3 separate regions of the Homo sapiens genome follow, and regions 2 and 3 are each linked to region 1. Evidence: fine-mapped expression QTL. A gene starts in region 1. Each other region holds a variant in brackets. All regions are shown on one strand. Distances are from middle to middle. Region 1 holds the start of MORN4 (MORN repeat containing 4). Region 2 overlaps AVPI1 (arginine vasopressin induced 1). Region 3 overlaps PI4K2A (phosphatidylinositol 4-kinase type 2 alpha).

The links. PIP is the estimated chance that this variant, and not a neighbour inherited with it, causes the effect.
Region 2: its variant is the best candidate, but not a certain one, in a credible set for the expression of MORN4 in pancreas (GTEx, PIP 0.56).
Region 3: its variant is the best candidate, but not a certain one, in a credible set for the expression of MORN4 in Th1 cells (Schmiedel 2018, PIP 0.64).

What each region holds. Positions count from the first base shown.
Region 1 is chr10:97,631,336-97,635,574 of GRCh38, forward strand. MORN4 (MORN repeat containing 4) reads right to left here and starts at 2,165. Exons shown (of 5, transcript NM_178832.4): 1 at 2,012-2,165. RefSeq lists an enhancer at 2,429-2,518.
Region 2 is chr10:97,680,321-97,684,559 of GRCh38, forward strand. All of the region lies in intron 1 of AVPI1 (arginine vasopressin induced 1), which reads right to left. Among named protein-coding and RNA genes, the nearest start is that of AVPI1, 4.8 kb to the right of the region's middle. The variant A/G (reference allele first, on the strand shown) is at 1,683.
Region 3 is chr10:97,658,680-97,662,918 of GRCh38, forward strand. PI4K2A (phosphatidylinositol 4-kinase type 2 alpha) reads left to right here. Exons shown (of 9, transcript NM_018425.4): 5 at 4,228-4,239. Among named protein-coding and RNA genes, the nearest start is that of PI4K2A, 20 kb to the left of the region's middle. The variant C/T (reference allele first, on the strand shown) is at 1,657.

The DNA of each region.
Region 1 (4,239 bases):
AAGGATCAGTCCAAACATTTACATAAAAGAAAATTACTATTCTGTCCCTGTAAACCAACACACTATTAGTCTGCACTATATACCATATTCCTGGTATCTTCATTTTCTTTTGTCCCAGACATTTCTTTTTAATTATTATTATTTTCTTATTTCCAAACAGAACTCTGAGGCAATAACGAGAATTTTTGTTTCCGTTCTTTTTATCGTTTTCTAATTTTAAGAAATCAACGTATTAAACAACATTTTTGTATTCACAGTAAACTGTGTCCAATTTAAGAGGATTAAAAAAAAAAAAACTGACATAAAGAGGAAAAAGGGCCAGGCATGATGGCTCACTCCTGTAATCCCAGCACGTTGGGAGGCTGAAGCAAGAGGATCGCTTGAGCCCAGGAGTTCAATACCAAGCTGGGAAACGTAGTGAGACCTCATCTCTACAAAACAATACAAAAATTTGCTGGGTGTGGTGGTGCATGCCTGTAGTCCCAGCTACTCAGGAGGCTGAGGTAGGAGGATTGCTTGAGCCCACAATTTGAGGCTGCCGGGGTGAGCAGTGACTGCACCACACCTGTACTCCAGCCTGGGCAACAGAGCCAGACCTTGTCTCAAAAAAAAGAAAAGAAAAGCAAAACAAAACAAAAGGTTGGGGCGGTGGGGGAGATCCAGTTAGAGAATACTGGGTGGAGGCAGCCACCCTAACTACCCACATGTCCCCCCAGAACCACCCTTCCCAGGGTACAATAGTCTTGTCAAATTATTTCAGTAATAAAGAAAGCAGTTCATAAGCTTTTAGAATCCTAAAGAGAAGAAAATGAAGGCTTTGATGAACAAAGATTAGCCTTGTTAGGAACCTAGAACAAAAAGTCAAATAATACTCCCCTTTTTTTTTTTTTTTTTTTTTTTTGAGACGGAGTCTTGCTCTGTCCCCCATGCTGGAGTGCAGTGGCAGGATCTTGGCTCACTGCAACCGCCGCCTCCCAGGTTCAAGCAATTCTCCTGCCTCAGCCTCCTGGGTAGTTGGGATTACAGGCACGTGCCACCATGCTTGGCTAATTTTTGTATTTTTAGTAGAGACGAGGTTTCACCATCTTGGCCAAGCTAGTTTTGAACTCCTGACTTCGTGATCCACCCGCCTCGGCCTCCCAAAGTGTTGGGATTACAGGCGTGAGCCACCGCGCCCGGCCTAAATATTTTTTTTTAAGTGTTTTAAAAGGAGCTCGAAATAACTGTTTTTCATTATAAGTCTAACCTCCTCTTTCCTCATGTGAAAAGTAAAGAAATGTATCGTTGCTATATGAAGGGTTCGTTTAGGGAAGACTGTGGGATGGTTAGATTGAAGAAAGTGGGAAGAAAATACTGGCGCCAAAAAGATTTTTTTTTTTTTTTATTTAAAGGCGATGATGACCTGGGGGTGATTGGGACTAGGGAGTAATACTGCCAGAATACTATCCTATTTCACGGGAAAGGGAATGCCAGGGCTGGACTCCGATATAGCAGTTATTCCTGCTGGTACCTAAGCAGTTCAGAGATGCTAGAATGCAGGGATACCACCCATCAACTAAATGAAGCATCCCATTCCCCAGGCTTCCATATGTGGGAGTTCTCTCCACCAGTGAGATAAAGGCGGGCTCAGGGAAAACAAAGCCCTAGACCACAACAAGGCAACACCTTCTCGCACCCCATTTTCACCTTCCAGGCGCGTTCCTTCCTGCTATCCGGGCCCGCTCTCCCGCCCGGCAGGGTCTAACGCTCACACAGGTCTGCCAATTCCCCTGATGCAACCCTCCACCCTCTGCTCGCTAACCCCAGTCCAGTCAGCTCTCCCGGGCCTCGACCCCCGCGGTGGAGACTAAAGGGTTCAGGTTTGGGTCCCCCACAGGCAACCGCCCTCAGGTCAGCGTATCCGAGGTGGAGCCGCGCCCCCGAGCCGGGTCATCTCGTGCTCCGTTCCTCAGTGCCCACCTGACCGATCACACTCTTTCCCGGCCCCCTCCCTCCTGCGCCTCCAGCCAACCTGGGGCCGGCCTTTCGGGATGACCGTCACGCCTGGACGCAGGGTTCCAGCGCCTCGGACTTTTCCTCTGATGGGCTCCCGGCTGCCACCTTGCTCTCCGCCACCTCCACCAGCGATTGCCCCACTTGACGCCGCCATCCTGGGCGACCGCACTGGGTACAATTCCCGCTGCCCATTGGCTGTTACCTAGGCAACCGGGAGCAACGCCACTCCGCATTGGCCCAGCCCGGCTCCACGCCATCTTTGTGCGGGGCCGAGTGTTTGCGAACCCGGGCTGACTATGTGAAAGAGGGGTGGTCCCACCTCTGCAACGCAGATAAAGACAGAGGATCCAGATCTGGCCTACCCAGAGGCCGTCTAGTTGAAATGGCAACCCCAAAGAAAACCAAACCTGCGCCCGAAGCAACAGTGACCATCAACGCGAGCGGCTCTGATCTTGCTCCAGTCCCCACTGCTGTCAAGGGCCCCGCCGCGGAGTTTAAGGCAGATCCTAAATCCAGCTTCAGAGAGGCAGCTTTGTAAATTGTAACGCGCTAGGCAGGATAGCCTCCAATAACTCTGTGCTAGACATTGTGATATCAAGACACTTTTGCATTCATTATAGGAATTTGTGCTGTCCTTGTCATTATCTAGATCCTTTTTGTTTAAAATATAGTACCTGGCCAGGCGCAGTGGCTCACATCTGTAATCCCAGCACTTCGGGAGGCCGCGGCTTGAGCTCAGGAGTGCGGGAGGCTTGAGCCCAAGAGTTCTAGATCAGCCTGGGCAACGCAGGGAGACTCCGTATCTACAGAAGAAAAAAATTACCCAGCCTAGTGGTGGGTGCCTGTAGTCACAGCTACTCAGGAGGCTGAGGTGGGAGGATCCCTTGAGCCCAGGAGGTTGAGGCTGCAATAAGCCATGATTCTGCCACTGTACCCCAGCCTGGGCGACCTAGCAAGACCCTGTCTCAAATAAATAAATTGCAAACCAAAAAGTATCTGAGACAGGTCTCAATCAATTTAGGAGTTTATTTTGCCAATGTTAAGGACATGCCCGTGACACAGCCTTAGAAGGTCCTAAGAATGTGTGTCCAAAATAGTCGGGACACCACTTGATTTTATACATTTTAGGGAGACGTAAGACATCAATCAATACATGTAAAATATACATTGGCTTGGTCCCGAAAGTGGGGGTGGGGGTGGCAAGTTCCAGGATGTAGGTGGATTCAAAGATGTCCTGATTGACAATTGGTTGAAAGAGTTTAAAGACCTGGAACCCACAGAAGGGAATGTCTGGGTTAAGTTAAGGAATTGTTACTAAGATATGCACGCACACACACACACACACACACACACACACACACACAAGGAATTGTGGAAATCAAGGTTTTTATTATGCAGAGAAGGCTACAGGTAGCAGGCTCCAGAGAGCATAGATTGTAAATGTTTCTTTATTTTTTTTTTTGTTTTGAGACAGGGTCTCCCTCTGTCACCCAGTCTGGAGTGCAGTAGCTGGATCACGGCTTACTGCAGCCTTGACCTCCCAGGCTCAAGTTATCCTCCCACCTCAGCCTCCTAAGTAGCTGAGACTACTGGTTCATTCCACTATGCCTGGCTTATTTTTGTATTTTTTGTAGAGATGGTGTTTTGTCATGTTGCCCAGGCTGGTATTGAACTCCTGGGCTCAAGTGATCCTCCCATCTCTGCCTCCCAAAGTGCTAGGATTACACGTGTGAGCCACCAAGGCTGGCCAGTGTTTATTATCAGATTTAGAAAGGTATCAGACTCTTAGTTAGTTCTCCCCTGGATCAGGAAAAAGACCTGGAAAGGGAAGGGGATTTTCTACAGAATGTAGATTTTCACCATAAAAGACACCTTTGCCTGCTATCATGACAGATGGGGCCTGCTATCTGTCAATGTTGGTATCATTGCTACAAAGAGTCTGCTGTGTCAACCTTAAGATCTCTGCTTTAATGTTAAATGCTGGTCCTGAATTCCAAAAGCAGGAGAAAATAATGAGGCATGTCTGACTCCCACTTCTCATCATGGCCTCAAATAGTTTTTCAGGTTAATTTAGGAATGCCCTTGGCCCAGAAGAGGAGGCCATTCATTTGATTGGGGGGCTTATAATTTTATTTCTGGTTCACTAGATAAATAAATAAATAAATAAAATATAGTGCCAAGATTGGAGCAAATCTTCCCAAATACCACTCACATCAATCTGTGTATCCATATGTTTATTTCTTA
Region 2 (4,239 bases), 49 kb after region 1:
TGCTTCACATAGTATCAATGAGATGTAACAAGCACAACAGCCCTGTAAGGTAGGTATTTTAATCCTCCTCATTTCACAGATGAGGAATCTGAGGAAAGGTTAAGTCATCCATGGTTCTGCAACTAGGATGAGAACCCAGGCCTCTCTGATGCTAAGGCCCAGGTGCCGTAGCACAAAGGTAAGAGAGGAGTTGTGGAGCTGGGCTACCCGAGTTGGAATCCCACTTCTACCCCCTCCACCACTTACTGGCTGGGCATCCCCCCTGCCTCAGCTGCCTCCCGTGTCAAATTATCACCTAGTACTACTACCTACTTTGTAGGATTAATTTGAAGATTGAAGGAAGACAAAGTATATAGAATAGTGGTCAGTGTTTTCAATCTATAAAATTGAGACATCATCCCACCTCCTATCTTTAAGACCCTGGGGATGAACCAAATCTGTATAATTTAGCAAACATAGTATGAAATGAGCCAATCAGATCTAACCACAGTCCAGTGGACCTAATGAGCAAGAGGTGGAGGCAGAAGAGGAGGCTACAAGGGTTAGAATATACTGTCAAGGGCAGAGACTGAAACTTATAAGAAAGTTCAATAGAAGTTAGACTCTGTGTCAATGTCTCCCATCATATCCAGGAAGTGAAAATTAAAGGATCTCCCTTGATTCTAGATAGTTCACTTTGAATAATAAAGGCCTAAGAAGCTTACCCACCCATCCTTGTCTCCAGCACAGCCTGGAAACAAGGGAAGCCTGGCATTACATAGAACAGGTTTTGAGTTCCAACTCTGACACCTTAAGCAAGTTACCCAACCTCGTCTCTGAGCCTGTTTCCTTAACTGTCAAATGGGGATAAGATTACCCACTTCTTAGGGTTATAGTAAGGATAAATGAGCCCAGTATATCAGTTACCCAATAAGAGCTAAATAAAATTATATCAGTTACCCAATAAGAGGATAAATAAAAAATTTAAGAATACAATGATATGGCTGGGCGTGGTGGCTCACACCTGTAATCCCAGCACTTTGGGAGGTGAGGCGGGCGGATCACCTGAGGTCAGGAGTTCAAGACCAGCCTGACCAACATTGAGAAACTCCGTCTCTACTAAAAATACAAAAGTAGCCGGGCGTGGTGGCGCATGCCTGTAATCCCAGCTACTCGGGAGGCTGAGGCAGGAGAATCACTTGAACCCAGGAGGCAGAGGTTGCGGTGAGCCGAGATCCCGCCATTGCACTCCAGCCTGGGCAACAAGAGCAAAACTCCGTCTTAAAAAAAAGAATACGGCCGGGCGCGGTGGCTCACGCCTGTAATCCAGCACTTTGGGAGGCCGAGGTGGGTGGATCATGAGGTCAGGAGATAGAGACCATCCTGGCTAACAAGGTGAAACCCCGTCTCTACTAAAAAATACAAAAAATTAGCCGGGCGCGGTGGCGGGCGCCTGTAGTCCCAGCTACTCGGGAGGCTGAGGCAGGAGAATGGCGTGAACCCGGGAAGCGGAGCTTGCAGTGAGCCGAGATTGCGCCACTGCAGTCCGCAGTCCGGCCTGGGCGACAGAGCGAGACTCCGTCTCAAAAAAAAAGAAAAAAAAAAAAAAAAGAAAAAAAGAATACAATGATACAACAATTAAAAAATACAAATAAAAAATAGATACATTGTAACTACAAAACATTCACATTGTATTAGGTATT[A/G]TAAGTACCCTAGAGATGATTTAAAGCATGCAGGAGGATGTGCGCAGTCTATAGGCCAACATGGCATTTTATGTAAGTGACTTAAGCGTCCCACGGAGGAGCCTGGAACCACCCTCCATGGATACTGAGGAATTTATAAACGCAAATCCTCCTCTGTTGGCCTCTGTGACCTTTGTACCTGGGTCAGGGGTACAGGTAAACCCTCCTCTTTCCTCTAAGCTGTGTGGCACAGCCAGCTGATGACAGGCCTGTGCTCCCACCCATCTCTCCCAGCCCCAGGCCTGCTGGGGAGAGGAGGAGCAGGTCCTGCTGCTTCTCCAGGGCCTGGTTGCCTAAGTCAGACCTCATTCCACAGCCAGCTACAGAGACAGCTGTCAACAGCAACCAGCTTCCAAAAGGGGAAAAGGAACATTAAAATATTTTTAAATTAAAATATTTACATGCTCATCATAAGAGGCAAACAGTACAAAAGCTTATATATAAAAACTTTTCCAATTTCCTATCAACCCACTTGCAGAAGTAACCCTTCCCCTAACCTGCCTTTTGTTCTCTGTAAGAGTTTGAATTGTCTCCGCCCCACTCATACTCCCAAAATATGACTCCCCCCCTTGCCCTGGCCTTCTCCGCTCCTCACCTCAATAGTCACCCTCATTATCCCAATCATTTCTATGCTCACTCTGTCCCAGTTTCCAGGCCTTCTATCATAAAAACTCCACCCTGTTTTCAAAAGATTTAACAACTACAATAAAGCTGCAGAAGACTTCCAGATGAGTTAACGTCATGAAAATTGTATTTTATTTGGAAAATGGAAATTTAAAAATCTGCCTCTCCTTAGGTGCTATTATGAAAATCCAGTTAAAACCTAATCTATATGGTAATTAAGCCCCCAGAGCTGGATGACATAAACACACTGTGACAAGAAGACAACAGTCGCCAAGTAACACTTTTAGGCTGATAAAAAGAAAAGCTAACTATGGGATATTTACTCTGGATCAGGCAATACGTATGATATCCTTTAATCCTCAAAACAATTCTAGGAGTTAGGGACTGTTATCCCATTTCACAGGGAAGTAAAGGGAAGCTAAGATGCAAATATGAGTACCAGTGGCTTAGCCGAGGCCAGAGGTGGTTCAAATGACTGCAGCCCATGCTTTTATTTTTATTTTTTTTTTGAGAGTGAGTTTTGCTCTTGTTGTCCAGGTTGGAGTGCAGTGTTGCAATCTCAGCTCACTGCAACCTCTACCTCCTGAGTTCAAGTGATTCTCCTGCCTCAGCCTCCCGAATAGCTGGGATTACAGGCGTCCCCCACCACTCCCGACTAATTTTTTGTATTTTTAGTAAAGACAGGGTTTCACCATGTTGGTCAGGCTGGTCTTGAACTCCTGACCTCAGGTGATCCACCCGCCTTGGCCTCCCAAAGTGTTGTGATTACAGGTGTGAGCCACTGCGCCCGGTCAGCCCACGCTTTTAAACCCCCGAGCTGGCTTCACAGCCAGGCAGCTTAAAGAACACTTCACATTTCTATGAAGAATGCTTTCCTATTCCCACCTAATTCATGAAGGGGAAATCCTACCAATGGAAAGGGAAGGACAATGAATTATCCCACCTGGTGGAGGCAGGGGTGGAGCTGTGGAATTTCGTTAGTCTGTTCTCTAGGGTCAGGGCTCTTTCCTGGGTGACAGCCCAGCCTTGAGCCGTAGCACTCTAAAGAGGAAGAGCCCAGCTTCCACAGAAGAAATCAAGAACTGCAACCCAGCCCAGTGCACAGAGCCCTGGCTTACGAGTCAGAGGAGTCGGTTCAAGCCCTACTTCTGCCACTCACTGGCTGAAAAACCTCAGGCAATTCACATCCCCTCTGTGGGTCAGCTTCCCTGTTACTGCTATAAGAACAGCTTGATGCTGTTTGTTTCTGAGGGCCTGCACCAGTGCTGAGAGTCAACAATTCCACCCGCAGGTAAGTCTGTACAGAAGGAGGAACGGAGCTACTTGTCTGCCAAAGCCTAGGGGCAATGTGTGGACAGGTCTGGCTAACTGGGTGCTAGGAAATTCCCCAGCCAGTAGCTCCCTTTCTCCTCCCTACTCTATGTTGTTTTGCTGCAGTGGGCCCTGGGGTTAGCATCTGGTAGAAAACAGAACTCACAGCTCTAAAGCTCCCTAGTGACCTCAGCTGGCAATGACCAAGCCCGGGGCAGACGCCTAGGCAGGTCTGGGGTAGTAGGAGAAAGGGTGATATCTGGCCTCACCTCCCCAGGAAAAGAAGGGCAATAAGGATCATGTAGCAGCAGCTGCCTCGGGGAGGAAATGGCTTGGAGCCTGACTTCCCAACAACCTCTCCCAGGATGGCAAGGCTTTGACTCCACAGCTTCAGCGAGCTGCGAGTCACAAACATACCAAGAAACCCTCAGGGAGAGTCTGAGCCTCCAGCCTCAACCCTCCTTGAACCTTAGGGAGGGCCTAGCACCTCCAGATTTTGAGGCCCCTCACTCTTTTTACTCTTTTTTTTTTTTTTTTTTGAGGCGGAGTCTCACTCTGTCACCCACGCTGGAGTGCAGTGGCG
Region 3 (4,239 bases), 27 kb after region 1:
TTTCTCACCAGCACTTACTGTTTTCTGTTTTTTCCTTTTCATATTTAATCTGCATTCTGCTGAATGTTTTCTGTTGTTTTGATAGTAACCATCCTAATGGGTGTAAGATGTTATCTTATAGTTTTGATTTGCATTTCCTTAATGATTAGTGATGGTAAGCATCTTCTTATGTGCTGATTGGCCAATCATATATCTTCTTTGGAGCTGTCTATTTAAGTCCTTTGCCTATTTTTGAATTTTTTTTGGTCATTATTGTTGAGTTCTCTATACATTTGTTTAAAGTTCTCTGTATATCTGGCTATTAATCCCGTATCAGATATATAATTTGCAAATATTTTCTCTCAATCTCTTGCCTTTAGTTTTATTTTTTAAAGAGACAGAGTTATGCTCTATTGTCCAGGCTGAAGTGCAGTAGCACAATCATAGCTCACTACAGCCTCGGACTCCTGGGCTCAAGTGATCTTCCTACCTCTGCCACCCGAGTAGCTGGGACTACAGGTGTGAGGACCACGCCTGGCTAGTTTTTAAATTCTTTGTAGAGATGAGGTCTCACTGCGTTGCCCAGACTGGTCTCGAATTCCTGGGCTCAAGCAGTCCTCCTACCTCAGCCTCTCAAAGTGCTGGGATTACAGGTGTGAACAACTGCGCCTGGCTTGCAACTGATTTTTTTGTGGATTGACTTTGTATGCTGCTACTTTCCTGAATTATTAGTTCTAGTAGTTATTTTTTTGTGTGGAAATTTTAGGGTTATGCACCTACACAATCATATCTATGAACAGACATAATTTTCCCTCTTTTTTTTTTTCCAATTTGGGTGCTTTTTATTTCTTTTTTCTTGCTTCAGTGCTCTAAGACTTCCAGTACTATGTTGAATAGAAGTAAAAGCAGGCATCTTTTCACTGTTCTTGATTTTAGAGGAAAACCTTGCAATCTTTCACCATTATGATGTTAGGGTCCTTTTTGCCCACCTTGGCACCCTCAAGCTATTTGCAAGCTGCTCCTGGAACTTGTGCACATCTGGCTGCCATGTGGCTGAAGGGTGGGGGATGGGTAGCTGCTTGTGGGGCTAAGAGCCAAAATTGAATGAAATTAACCACAATTTACTGTCCAGGCTTTCCCCTGCAAGTTGCAGGCCCTCCATAGACTCCAGAGCTCCAAAATAATTACATCAGACAGATTTTTGCCACTACAATTGTTGTCCACGTGGGGAGACAGATTTCTGTTGTTTCCTACTCCACCATCTTCCCAGAATCCTCTCTCTTAGAGTATTGATTTTTACCTTTTCTCCTTTCCCTTCCTTTTCTTTTCTTTTTCTTTCTTTTCTTTTTTTTTTTTTTTTTGAGACGGAGTCTCGCTCTGTCACCCAGGCTGGAGTGCAGTGGCGCGATCTCGGCTCACTGCAACCTCCGCCTCCCGGGTTCACGCCATTCTCCTGCCTCAGCCTCCCGAGTAGCTGGGACTACAGGCGCCTGCTACCACGCCCGGCTAATTTTTTGTATTTTTAGTAGAGATGGGGTTTCACCGTGTTAGCCAGGATGGTCTCGATCTCCTGACCTCGTGATCTGCCCGCCTTGGCCTCCCAAAGTGCTGGGATTACAGGCGTGAGCCACCGCGCCCGGCCTTTTTTTTTTTTTGAGACGGAGTCTCACTCTGTCG[C/T]CCAGGCTGGATTGCAGTGGCATGATCTTGGCTCACTGCAACCTCCACTTCCCAGGTTCAAGTGATTCTCCTGCCTCAGCCTCCCGAGTAGCTGGGACTACAGGTGCATGCCACCACACCCGGCTAATTTTTGTATTTTTAGTAGAGACAGGGTTTCACCATATTGGTCAGGCTGGTCTTGAACTCCTGACCTCGTGATCTGCCTGCCTTGGCCTCCCAAAGTGCTGGGATTACAGGTGTGAGCCATCGAGCCCGGGCTCTTCTTTTCTAATATATGCACTTCAGACTTTAATTTCATCTTAAGCATAGTTTAGTTGTATCTTACAAGTGTTTTTTTTTTTTACCATAATCATTATAAAATATACTGAAATTTTTTTTATCCTCTCAGTTTATAGATGGAGACTGTATTTTCTAATTTCCATTGTTCATTTCTTCTCTGACCCATAGTTTACTTAAAATAGTTTTTTAGCTGGTTAGTAGGAAAATTTCAAAATACACAAAAGTAGAGAGACTGGTATAATAAACCCCATGTACTTGTTACCACCTTCAACAGTTATTATGTAAGGTCTCACTTCCTGCTACCCCCATCCCTGCTGGATTTTTTTTTTTTTCAACTAAGGCTTTGACTGGAACTGCTGGATTTTTTAAAATTTATTTTTATTTTATATTTTTTGGAGACGGAGTCTCACTCTGTTGCCCAGGCTGGAGTGCAGTGGCCCAATCTCGGTTCACTGCAAGCTCCGCCTCCCGGGTTCACACCATTCTCCTGCCTCAGCCTCCCGAGTAGCTGGGACTACAGGCGCCCGCCACCACACCCGGCTAATTTTTTGTATTTTTAGTAGAGACGGGGTTTCACCGTGTTAGCCAGGATGGTCTCGATCTCCTGACCTCGTGATCCGCCCACCTCGGCCTCCCAAAGTGCTGGGATTACAGGAGTGAGCCACCGCGCCCGGCCACTGCTGGATTATTTTAAAGCAAATCTGAGACATCATTTTATAGCATCCATAGATACCTCCATATGTTCTTGAAGAGATAAAGACTTTTTTTTTTTTTTCAGTATAATCAGTATTTAATGTCCCATCAGTGTTTGGATTACCCCAGTTGTTTCATAAAAAAAGATTTTTATAATTGGCTTGTTGAAATTATGATATAAAGGTCCACATATTACATTTGGTTAATATCTTTCCTTTCTGTTTTTTTTTTGGAGATGGGATCTCACTATGTTGCCCAGGCTGGTCTTAAACTCCTGGGCTCAAGCAGTCCTCCCACCTCAGCCTCCCAAAATGCTGAGATTACAGGCATGAGCCACTGTGACTGGCCAGGTTAATATGTTTCTTAAATGTCTTCAATTTAGGGAAAGTTTCACATCTTTTTTTTTCCCTTGCCTTTTATTTGTTGAAGAAACTGGATATTTGCCCTATAGAAGTTCCACATTGTGGATTTGGCATCCCCAATTCTCTGTGTTTCCTGTAAATTTACTGCTTGAGTTTAAAGGCTTGATCAAATTCAGGTTTGATTTTTTTTTTTTTTTTTTTGAGGCAGGGTCTCACTCTGTTGCCCATGCTAGAGTACAGTGGTATGATCATAGCTCATTGCAGCAGCCTCCAACACTTGGCTCAAGCTGTCCTGCCTCAGCCTCCCAAGTAGTTGGGACTATAGGCACGTACCACCACACCTGGCTAATCTTATTTACAATTTGTTTAGACATGGGGTCTCGCTATTTTGCCCAGGCTGGTCTTGAACTCCTGGCCTCAAGTGATTCTCTGCCTCCTCAGCCTCCCAAAATGCTGGGATTTCAGGTACAGCCTCTGCTGATATTCTTAATCTTGACTTTTATCTTTTTAAACATATTAAGGATTTTGTTGTGAACATTTTAAAGTCTGTATATTTTTATTGTTTGGAGCCCCTACAGATCTGTTTTAATTTTCAGTTGTTTCTCTTTTATTCCTGTCATCTTGTTTCTTTGTGTACCTGGTTGTTTTTCATTGTCAAATACTGCCTATCAGAAATCGTAGAGCTGTATAAAGGCCTAAGATGTCATTGTAAATCCTGTCTGGAGGAAGATTTCTTTTGGCAAGCATCTAGGGCAATAGCAATCCAGTATCACTTTAATTTCAGGTGTTGAGGGGAGCTTAGTGTATTTCCAAGGTGTAGTGCTTCAGGTCGTAACCCAAAGCATAGATGATATACGAGGGTCCCTTACCCCTGATCAGTCACTGGATTATAGTTTTTGTCTCTCTAGCTCCACAAGGCTCTTATAATTGTTCTACCTCTCAAGCTCTTAGCCAGCTCTTTCCAAATTGGCAGGTGCTCTAGGGGAAAAGAAGCCACAGTGCTGGGCTCCACGTCCTCCCATGGATTTCCTTTCTCTCCCATATCTTCACTCTTAAATCCTTTGTGGTCTTATTAAAATCTCCAGTACCTTAAAAAAGATCTAAAAATATTTTATCCAGCATTTGTAGTCATTCTCAGTAGAAGCGTTAGTCCGAGTGTCCAGAATACCTAGTCCACCATTACAAAAATGGAAAATCATCCCCCCTTTTTCTGCTAACTTTATATTTCTGTTCACAGATCGAGGCAATG